Regions from separate parts of the Homo sapiens genome. Here region 2 is linked to region 1. The links come from fine-mapping of genetic effects on gene expression. A gene starts in region 1. The other region holds a variant in brackets. All regions are shown on one strand. Distances are from middle to middle. Region 1 holds the start of MARK2 (microtubule affinity regulating kinase 2). Region 2 overlaps MARK2 (microtubule affinity regulating kinase 2).

Evidence for each region. PIP is the estimated chance that this variant, and not a neighbour inherited with it, causes the effect.
Region 2: its variant is the best candidate, but not a certain one, in a credible set for the expression of MARK2 in whole blood (TOPMed, PIP 0.67).

What each region holds. Positions count from the first base shown.
Region 1 is chr11:63,836,232-63,841,594 of GRCh38, reverse strand. MARK2 (microtubule affinity regulating kinase 2) reads right to left here and starts at 2,485. Exons shown (of 19, transcript NM_001039469.3): 1 at 2,035-2,485. The coding sequence starts at 2,088. RefSeq lists a silencer at 2,151-2,390 and enhancers at 2,401-2,550, 2,811-3,799.
Region 2 is chr11:63,883,800-63,889,162 of GRCh38, reverse strand. The region is part of intron 1 of MARK2 (microtubule affinity regulating kinase 2); the gene reads right to left. Among named protein-coding and RNA genes, the nearest start is that of RCOR2, 31 kb to the left of the region's middle. RefSeq lists an enhancer at 537-646. The variant A/C (reference allele first, on the strand shown) is at 3,277.

The DNA of each region.
Region 1 (5,363 bases):
AAAACAAAGGTTGTGAGAGGAAAATGGGTGGAATAAGCAACCTCAAGAGGGCCCAGAGAAAGCAATTCCCAGTAAGGAGAGAGAAACAGCCGGTAGGCAAGGGAGAGAAAGACTGCGAGACACAGAACATGCTCCTCTGTCTCCAAAGACCCCTGTCCCATGCAGAACCAGCTGCCAAACCCAGTGATGAAATGGAAATCAACCATCCCTCCCTCTCAACCCCTATTTCACCCCCAGAAGCAAATAATCCACAAGTAATAAAAGGGTCAACCCTGCAGAGAAAAACTCTGCCTAGAACTTCTCTTTAGTTCCTAACTGCCCAGGTGACAGAGGGCCAGGGGGTAACAAAATAGAAAAACACAGTAAAAGAAAGGAGGTAAGATTTTTCAAAGAAGAATGTTCACATGCAAGAGAATACAACAACTGCTCTACCGGGCTACAAAGAAAGAAGGGAGTAAGAGGGAAACATAAAGGATGGAAGGAGGGGAAAGAAGGCAAAAAGCACAGCAGCCCCGGGGCAGAAGCACTTCTTTTTCAAGTCAAGTTTTTTTGGCCTAGTAAAGTTCTCCACCAAGAAAGGTATGACAGGCAGGGGACTCTGCACAGAGCAGTCAGCAAAGGACGCTAGAGATGGTGAAAGAAAGGGGAGGTGTGGAAAGTGGACGTCTCTGGGATCAAAAGTGAGATGACACAGAAAGGCTAAGACTTGGGTGAAAAACATAGCAGTGACTGCCAGGATGAGGGGGACCGTGTAGAGTCGTGAGGCTGAGGTGTAGCTCAAGAAACTAGCATGCAAAACACCTGGACTTCCTGGGCATTACAGAGACTTAGCCAATAGGAACAGAATGGATCCAAGCACGGTGTGGGGATACACAGGACATGAAGAAGGCAGGAGACTAATGCGGAGATGAAAGGCAACGCTGATTAAAAGGCACAGTAAGGAAGATGGGGTGAGGGTGGAGAAACAGGAAGGCAACAAGCAAGAAAGAAAATACTCTAAGTGCCAGGCACGGGAGTGAAGACACAGAAAGTCATCATGGTTTGTGTTCCAGCGTACGAAGACAGAAAGGCAAAAACTGTGATGCAGCGAGGTCTGGGAAAGGACTGAGCAACAGGTTGTGTTAATACGGTGGGGCCAAGTGTCTTTGGGTTGGGAGAAAGAGCCCAGTAGAAGGCTGGTAGAACACTCACAGAGAGAAACAAGAGGCCCAGGGACCTAAAAGCCAAACCCGAGGGGAAGAGAACAAGAGGGATCCAAAGACTCTGAAGGGAGTGATGATTGGAACCCCAAACGCAACCTGTGGGAAAACTATGCGCATGACAGCTGTGGGGAAACACGGAAGCGACAAATGCCAGCGCCAGGATCCAGGGAGCTCCTGGAGCAAAGAAGGGAAAGTGATGAGCAAAGAGTAGGCGAAGGATTTGGAAAGGTGATGAGGGTGGAGCTGGTGGGTTGCAAGCAAGAGGGAGAGCACAATTTGGAAAACGAAGAAGCAGGGTAGAAAAAGCTGGGGGAACTGCAAGGGGCCAGGGATCGAGAGCGCAGTCCAGGGCAAGGACCCTGAGGGTGATAACCCAGAGACTGGCAGAACCGGTGCGGGCGGAGGGGAAGCGAGGCAGGAGAGACGAAGGGAGAGGTGGACAACGATCTGTGGCAAATCGCGGGGTGCTGCTATTCGAGGAGCGGGAGGGTGGCTGCTTTAAGCGTGGGTGGAGGAAGACCAGAAAGGCCCCTGAGAGAAAAAGGGAAGAGAAAGGGAAGCTGGGGAGGTGACACGGAAGAGCGCAGGAGGGCGGTGAGGGGAGACGGGGGTTGGCAGAAAGACAAGTGTGCAGCTTGGAGTCAGGACGAGGTGGGTCCCAGGTCAGGACTCGGAAGCGGGATGTGCGGAGCCGGAGCCAGGAGCCGGATGACAGGGCAGCCGAGGCTTGCAGGATGGCAGCAGGGGCACGAGGAGAGCAGAAGAGGGAGGAGGCTCCGCAAGGTGCAAAGGGCCCAGCCAGAGAATTCGGGGAGCCCTCGGGGCTCCTTACCTGCTCCGTGTCCCTCTCGTTCAGCGTGGGTAGGGGGGTCCGAGCGCTGGACATGGCGCCGGTATCTCGGGGGAGGGAACCGAGAAGCTTGGAGGAAGGGAGGGAAGGGAAGGCGCGGAGCCCGGCCGGGCGGGGCTTCTCACAGCAGGAGCACCCGCCGCATGGGCCCCGGCCGGGGGTGCGGGGAGGCCGGGCAGCCGCTCACGCCAGCCCGGGGATGCGCCGCTCGGGCTAGGCCGCGCCGGCTCCGAGCGGCTCCGGACCGCACCCCCCCGACCCCCGGCTGGGCTGTGCCGCCTTTCGGCCGGGCCGCGCCGCTCCGCCTACTCTCTGCCGCCGCAGCCGGCCGCCTGCCTCGCTCCTCCCCTGCCCTCAGCGGCACTGCTCCGCGCCCGGCACACAGGCAGCCGCCGCCGGACCTGCTGCTCCCAACATGGCCGCCACCACCGCCGGCCCTCGGCTCTTTTCGCCGGCAGCAGCCGGAAACATCCGAAGCGGCTAGAAACGGGAGGTGGGGCGCGCCTTCTCCTCCCGGCCACAGACTACGGGTGAATTCCGGAAACAGCCGAAGAAGGTAAACCCCGGGGACGCGCTCTCCTCCTCGATTCCGAAGACGAAGCTTCGGCTCTGTTTACGGAAATCCACGAAGCGACCCCGGGTGCCTACCCCCCGCCCCCGTCCACGGCCATCCAGCCACGCCCACCGGCCTTTCCCCGCCCACTTCAAGGGGGCTTTCGGCAGTTTCCGGAAATACCCGAAGCTGCTCCGCGTGCTGAGCCGGCCACGCCCCCTCCCACAGCCCTGCCGAGGGCGGTCGTCGGCCATTTCCGGCAACACCCGAGGCCCTCCGAGCACCCGGTCGTTTCCCCGGGTGGCTCTCGGAGTCTGATTCGCTTCGTGTCTTTCCGTCAGTTTTCGGGCATTTTCAAACCTTGAACAGGAAGCGTGGGTCACCTGTCTGTGCTTGTGATTTGACTAAATACAAAACAAGATTGTTAGCCGTCCCTGTGATTGGCATCCTCTGGTTCTATAGCAGCTTCCTGTCTGCATTTCTGTCCATCTGTCGGTCAGCTCATAAAATTCATCTTCTTTTTATCATCTAGCCTATCAATATACCTGTCAAATGCAGCATCAGTCTATTGCCTGTCTGCCACCGTCTATCTTGGCTTCTGTGGATTCATCCGTGCATTCCCGCATCTAGTCCGCAGGGCTCGGCAAGGCCCCAGGCAGGCCCAGGGCAGCGTCCTCTGCACCGGATGCGGGAGCGTCCAGGGCCCTGCATTTCAGCCCCAGCTCTGCCAAGTGCCAATGCTGCGTGATCTTGGAAAAATCACATAACATCACTGAGTTTAGGCTCCTCTTTCCTTTGCCTTTGCTCCTGCGTTGACATTCAAAATGACATTTCTGAATTCCAGTTACCTTTTAAAATGCCTCTGCAAGATAAGGCATTTAAAGTTTCTTTTCTTTCCTCCTCTGGGCCTCATTTTCCCCATCAGTAAAGTGAAGCCATTGGATTCATGAACTCGGAGGTCCTTCTCAGCTTTGGAGAGCCCTTGACTAACAGGAAGTCTGTATGGCAACTGCAGTCCATTCCTCACTTCCCCTTACACTGCGTTACCAAGGACAGGGAGTATCCTGGGCTGATTTCCCCAGCGCCAAGCTGTCCTCACCCATAGTACCTGGAACACGTTGGAACCACACCCTCCCATCAGTGGCTTAAGGTGGGCAGGAGGCAGAGGCCCCGCAGGAGTCAGAAACCAGACTCAGGCAACAGGTTCCCAAAGGTACAGGAGCAGAGAGGCTCCAGGAGTTATTGGGAAAACTGCTGATTGGACCCCTGCTACTTGACCTCCAACTCCCAGCTACAGCATCTTGAGCCAGCCTTCATCCCATCAATCAGAGAAATAGGCATCTGAGCAGATGTAATTACCAGGGTATGAAAGTACTTCCTAAGGCAACAGGTATCACTACACTCTTAGTAAATCCTGGGACTTCAGCACTGCTCCCCATGCCCCATACCAGCTCTATTCAGGCACCCAACCGTTGAGGAAGAAGGTGAAGGCACACCCATGAAGGTGAGGGAAAGAGAGAAGAGGAGGACAGAGAACACCTCACTCCCCAACCCAAATTCGATCCTTGAGAATCATCTGCCCTCTGGTGGCCAAAGGGAGACACGTTGCTGATTCCTGTGCCTGGTATCACCTCTAATGCCAGGGTCTGGAAAGCAGGGAAAAGAGAGAGGAAGCAGTTGGTGGTTGGTGTTCCAGCAGTCTCTCCCTGGTCCACACTCTCGTCTAAATAGACTCCATCTTCTCCAAGCTTCTCACTCTAGCTCTAACCCCTGCCTCACCCCTGCCCTTTGACCTTCATCCCCAACCCCTACCCTACCTATCCTTTCTCTTCCTTGCTAGCTTTGCACAAGGCTGCTGAGCTTGTCTCCCCGCCTAGACTCCCTCCAACCTACTGCACCAGACATGTCAGAATAATCTTCCCAAAGTCCAGCTCCAATAACATCTCTGCTCTGCTAGAAAGCTATCACCAGCTCCCTCACTGGTTATAGGCAGGGCTGGCTTCTTGGGCCCACGACCCCATGCAGTCACACAGAGCCCTGTGCTCAGGTGGACCCTGAGCTTGGATTAATGCTCTGCTGTCACCATCTTGAAATTTTTTTTTTTAAGACTGAATCTCGCTCTATCTCCCAGGCTGGAGTGCAGTGGTGCGATCTCAGCTCACTGCAACCTCCACCTCCCAGGTTCAAGTGATTCTCATGCCTCAGCCTCCTGAATAGCTGGGATTATAGGTGCCCACCACCACACCCGGCTAATTTTTTGTGTTTTTAGTAAAGACAGGGTTTCACCATGTTGGCCAGTTTGGTCTAGAACTCCCAACCTCAAGTGATCCACCTGCCTCGGCCTCCCAAAGTGCTGGGATTACAGGCGTGAGCCACCACGCCCGGCCCATTATCTTGAAATTTTTGACCAAGGGGGCCATGCATTTCCATTTTGCACTGTGCCCCACAAATTATGTAGCTGGTCCTGGCTGTAGGAAAAGCCTTTAGCCTGCATTTAAAACTTTGCTCAATCTGGCCTCACATTGCCTTACAATAACCTCTCCAACTATCACTGATCACACTTCTCCCTAACTCCTACCCCGCTGCCAGTCTCTCTCACTTCCATGCCTTTGGTCAAGCTGATAGATGATTGCCCATCATCCACCTCAGCTTCCAGAACCACTTCAAGATCCAGTTCAAATCTCACCTACTCAAATCCATGAACCCTCCTAGTTCTCCTCAAAGATGAATTATTGCCACACATTTACCCCCTCTCTAA
Region 2 (5,363 bases), 48 kb before region 1:
GGGGAGACCCTTCTGGTATGTGCCCCCTCTTCCTTTCCTAGTCAATGCCTCTTCCACATCTGGACACCCTTCCCATGAATATTACTATGCTGGACTCAGGCAGGGCGCCCCTTAGCAACTCTCTAAAGATCCTATGTTTGAGATGAGAGGAAAGAAAGAGGAGGAGGCAATCCTAGAGTAAAAAGGGGGACAACATACCCGACTGGAGAAAGGGAAAAGGACTACCAGCGACTTCCATTCAGCAGAGCCCACAGCAGAACCTGTCAGGCAGCGAGGGCAAAGTACAGAGGCCGGGAAGAGCCAGGCCTAGGGCGGGGGCTGCCGGCTCAGCCAGCCACCCTTACTCAGCCAGAGCAGGCGACACCTTCCACCACCTCCTCAGTGAAAAGTAGCTAAGCAGCCAGGCCGAGCGGTTCCTGCCTGGGAACCTGGACGGTGTCGCAACCGAAACCACCACTAGCAGAGAGACTGGGTTTGGCAAGGAGAGCAACAGGGACAAAGCCCCGCTGGCTTCTCAAGGGCCAGAGCCTGGTGGTCAGGAAGCGCGTGCAATTCCAGGACAGCACACCAGAAGCAAGGTGGGAGGGAAGGGGCAGGAGGGGAATAGGGCAGGAAGGGAGACAGAGAAAGAGGCGGGTTTAGATCAACTTCCTTCTCCCCTCCCCCTCCCCCCCTCCCCGGAAGTGGGCAGCCCCACCCTCCCCAAGGTGCTTTGCTGGGTAACAGCTGGCGAGAGGTCGAGGAGACTCACTGCAGCCACGGCTGTCATAAAACCCTAGCTCACCTGTGGCAGGTGGGACCTGGGTAGGGGCAGATGACTTTAACAAAGCCTCCAATAGGGCTGGGGAGGAACATGTGTGACTCAGATGTGCTGACCCAGAGTGGCGGCCCTGCCAAAGACCAGCAAACCACCCCCTCAAGAACGAAGTGGGGAGGAGGGTAAGCAGAAACCAGCAAGCTGACAGTGGCGGACGGACCTCCTACTTCCTAAAAAAGCAGTGCTTAACCTTGGAAACATGCACATTCCACTTAGACACAAAATATTTTGAGCATAATTTCAGGGAGTTTGGGGACTCTGTAAAGCCCCCTATGAGGTGTATGTTTTCTAGATTAAGAGCCTTTATCACTGATAGAGCATTCTATCAATGAAAAAATCATATTTAATCCTAGATTTTGCCCAAAAGCTAGAAACAATCCAAATGTCCCTTTTAAGTTCCTTCCAGCCCTGCTTCTGAACGTTCATCCCTAGGTTCTCACTCACCTCCAAGTTTCCAGTCACCAATCCCCTGCCTTACCTTCAAAACAACACTGCTTTCTCAAGGAATTCCAAAGGCCTGGGATTCCTCACACCTTCCTCCTGCTAAGCCCCCACTATCTGGGCACATGGTGAGCACAGGGCAAGCTGGCTGTCTCTCATCTGGAGAAGACTCCCCTTCTAGACCAACGACCCCTGTCTATGTGCTGGTTGCAGCCTTGCCTCTGGTTCTCAGAACAATTTCTCATTCATCCCCTATTCTAGGCTAGGCTCCCTCTCATTAAGGAACTCCGTGACCTTCTCACGTTGGTAGCCATTAACCCTCTAGGGAAGGGCAAAGCTTCCTCTGTGCTCTCACAGCACTTAAGCATATATTCCTGCAAGACCATGCTACTCAGGAGTGGCCAAGAAATGTTTGCCTTACACATGAGCCCTGGCCAACGGATTCAGCATTTCTGATGCTACTGTATGTCCAGCGCTTACACTTTGTTTTCTCCAAACACAGACCTATAGGGTAGGTAGTCTCCCTGTTTTCCATTGAGAAATTGGCATTCAGAGGTTATGAGACTTGCCCAAAATCTCACAGCTTCTCAGTACAGAGCTGGGGCCGGAGCCCAGAGCTTTTGTCACCATTTCAGCACTCTGCTGTTCTTGACAGTCCCCCTTACCAGTTTCTCATCAACCCTTCTTGATGCCTAATCGTGCTCTCATTTCCCCCAAAAGATAAGCCCCTGGCTCCTCCTCCATAAGCTAGGAGGCAGAAGGTATGAAGACTCAGGGAAGGTGCTCGGGACACTGGGAATGACAATGTTTGATTCAGGCCAATGGTGAAGTGCTGTTTAAAGGCCTATCCCAGTGGTCCCACAGCAACCCTTCCTTTTCCCAGCCCCCCAAAAGTGGGCCCTGACTTCAGTGGGCCCACTGGATCCTGGGCTCAAGCTTGCCCGGGCCCTCCGGCCCTTCACTCACTGGTAGACTGAGAACCAGAGCAGGATCAAACAGCTTCATTTTTCTAGTCCCTTCATTTTTCTAGGGCTTTGCAATGTGACAGAAGGACTGTTTCCTCAATCCTATTTGTGGGAGACAGTAAGGGATTTTGTAAACTGAGGAAATACAAAGCACTGACTACAAACAGAAAAGCTGGGAAGAGATAGGGTAGGATTTAGATTAAAAGCCACATGGGGGCCAAGCATGGTGGCCCCCACCATGTAATCCCAGCACTTTGAGAGGCCGAGGCTGGTGGATCACTTGAGGTCAGGAGTTCGAGACCAGCCTAAGCAACATGGCGAAACCCCATCTCCACTAAAAATACAAAAATTTGCTGAGCGTGGTGGCGTACACCTGTAATCCCAGCTACTCGGAGGCTGAGGCATGAGAACTGCTTGAGCCTGGGAGGTGGAGGTTGCAGTGAGCAGAGATTGCACCACTGCACTCCAGCCTGGGCAACAGAGTGAGACTCTGTCTCAAAAAAAAAAAGCCACACGGGGCTGAGCACTGTTGCTCATGCCTTAATCCCAGCACTTTGGGAGGCCAAGGTGGGAAGACGACTTGCGCCTGGGAATTCGAGACAAGCCTGGGCAACAGAGTGAGACCCTCTCTCTCCAAATTCAAAAATTAGCCAGGCATGGTGCCATGGGTCTGTAGTCTCAGCTACTCGGGAGGCTAAGGCAGGATAATCGTTTCAGTCCAGGAGGTGGAGGTAACAGTGAGCTATGATCGTGCCACTGCACTCCAGCTTGGGTGACAGAATTAGACTCTCGTCTCTTTTTTTTTTTTTTTGAGATAGAGTCTCACTCTGTTGCCCAGGTTGGAGTGCAGTGGCGCAATCTCGGCTCACCGCAACCTCTGCTTCCCGGGTTCAAGTAACTCTCCTGCCTCAGCCTCCCGAGTAGCTGGGATTACAGGCGCCCGCCACCACACTCAGCTAATTTTTTTATATTTTTAGTAGAGACGAGGTTTCACCATGTTGGCCAGGATGGTCTCGATCTCCTGGCCTTGTGATCTGCTCACCTTGGCCTCCC[A/C]AAGTGCTGGGATTACAGGTCTGAGCCACTGCACCCGGCCTCTTTTTTTTTTTGAGATGGAGTCTTGCTCTGTCACCCAGGCTGGAGTGCAGTGGTGCGATCTCGGCTCACTGCAACCTCCGCTTCCTGTGTTCCAGTGATTCTCCTGCCTGAGCCTCCCAAATAGCTGGGATTACAGGTGCGTGCCACCACGTCCAGATCATTTTTGTATTTTTAGTAAGATGGGGTTTCACCACCTTGGCCAGGCTAGTCTTGAACACCTGGCCTCAAGTAATCCACCCGCCCCAGCCTCCCAAAGTGCTGGGATTACAGACATGGGCCACTACGCCCAGCCTCTCTTTTTTTTTCAAGACAAGGTATGACTCTATCACCCAGGCTAGAGTGCAGCAGCACGATCTTGGCTCACTACAACCTCTGCCTCCTGGGCTCAATCCATCCTCCCACCTCAGCCTCCCGAATAGCTGCAACTATAGGCCCACAGCAATACGCCCGGCTAATTTTTGTATTTTTTGTAGAGATAGGGTTTTGCAAGCTTGTCCAGGCTGGTACTGAACTCAACAATTCAAGTGAACTGCCCACCTTGGCCTCCCAAAGTGCTGGGATTATAGACATGAGCTACCATTCCCAGCACAAGACTTTGTCTCTTAAGAAAGGTCATGTGCCTGTGGCAAGTCCCTATTTATTTATTTATTTTTAAACAGGGTCTTGCTCTGTTGCCCGGGCTGGAGTGCAGTGGTACGATCTTGGCTCACTGCAATCTTCGCCTCCTGGGCTCAAGTGATCTTCCTCTTGAATACCTGGGGCTACAGGCATGGGCCACCAAGCCCGGCTAATTTTTGTATTTTTTGTACAGACAGGATTTCTCCATGTTGCCCAGGCTGGTCTCGAACTCCCTGGGCTCAAGCAATCCTCTCACCTCGGCCTCCTAAAGTGCTGGGATCACAGGAGTGAGCCACTGCGCATGGCCATATGGGACATCTTGTAACTGGGAGTTGGAGTCCTTTGTTTTTTAACCCTTCCTCCCTCACTGTATCCAGAAACTGTCTTTTCATCCTTTGATTCTGAGCAACTATCGCTATCAACTGCCATGAGCAACTATCGCTATCAACTGCCAAGAGTCAATAAACCAGAGGAGCATTCAGTGTAGGAGAGCTTGTAAAACTGGCAGGCACTCACCAGTGGAAAGCCTGGATGCTCCCACCCCCAAAATTAACTGTGACTGTTCCACTTGAGAAACAGCCATATTCCTTTACTGTCCCATTGTAGATGGGAGGCAGGGGCTGCTCCCTCTTTCCAGCCAGGGTAAGAGCCTCCTTCACAAAGGATAACCAGAAGAGCCTGCAACTTAAGCACAAAGCCAAAACCAAGGTGGTTTACTGCCCTTTAGCTCTCTGAGCTGCAATCCTCACCACAAGGCAGGGAGATCAGCACTGCAGCCTGGGCCATGAGGCGGGGCTCCCCCAGGACTCAAGCCTGCCTGGGAAAAACCTGACATGGCATAAGAGGTGAGAACAGAGAGCAACCTCCAGCTCACTCTCCTTCAGGCCTGGAAGCCACAATGCAAAGAGCACTCTCCAAATCTCCTCTGTCTTCAGAGCCACTTGAAATGCTGGGCTCCTCTTGAAACTAGATTCTACTGAGCAACCAGGGCTTTAGAGGCTTCCAGGACTACTTTCATCCCTGAGAATCTGCTTGCTGGGGTCTGGTCGCTAAATCCCCAGCTACTGTTGCCCTAGCAAACCTTTGTTGAGCAGTACTCTGGAGCCCTGGCTCCAGTTGCAAAGCTCAGTGCGATCTGGCTCCTGCCTTCCAGAAACTTAAAAGAGGTAAACTATACAGAAAACTTACTATAGTCGCTCTGCCCACCTCTGTTGCTTACCAGCTGACTGAACATGAGCAAAGTGACATAACTTCTCCAAATCTGTTTCCTCATTTGGGACATAAAGATACTAGCTGTACCCATTTCACAGAATTAGAGTGAAGATTAAATGAGAAAATCTGGCCGGGCGTGGTGGCTTACACCTCTGATTCCAGCACTTTGGGAGGCCAAGACAGGCAGATCCCTTGAGCCTAGGAACTCGAGGCCA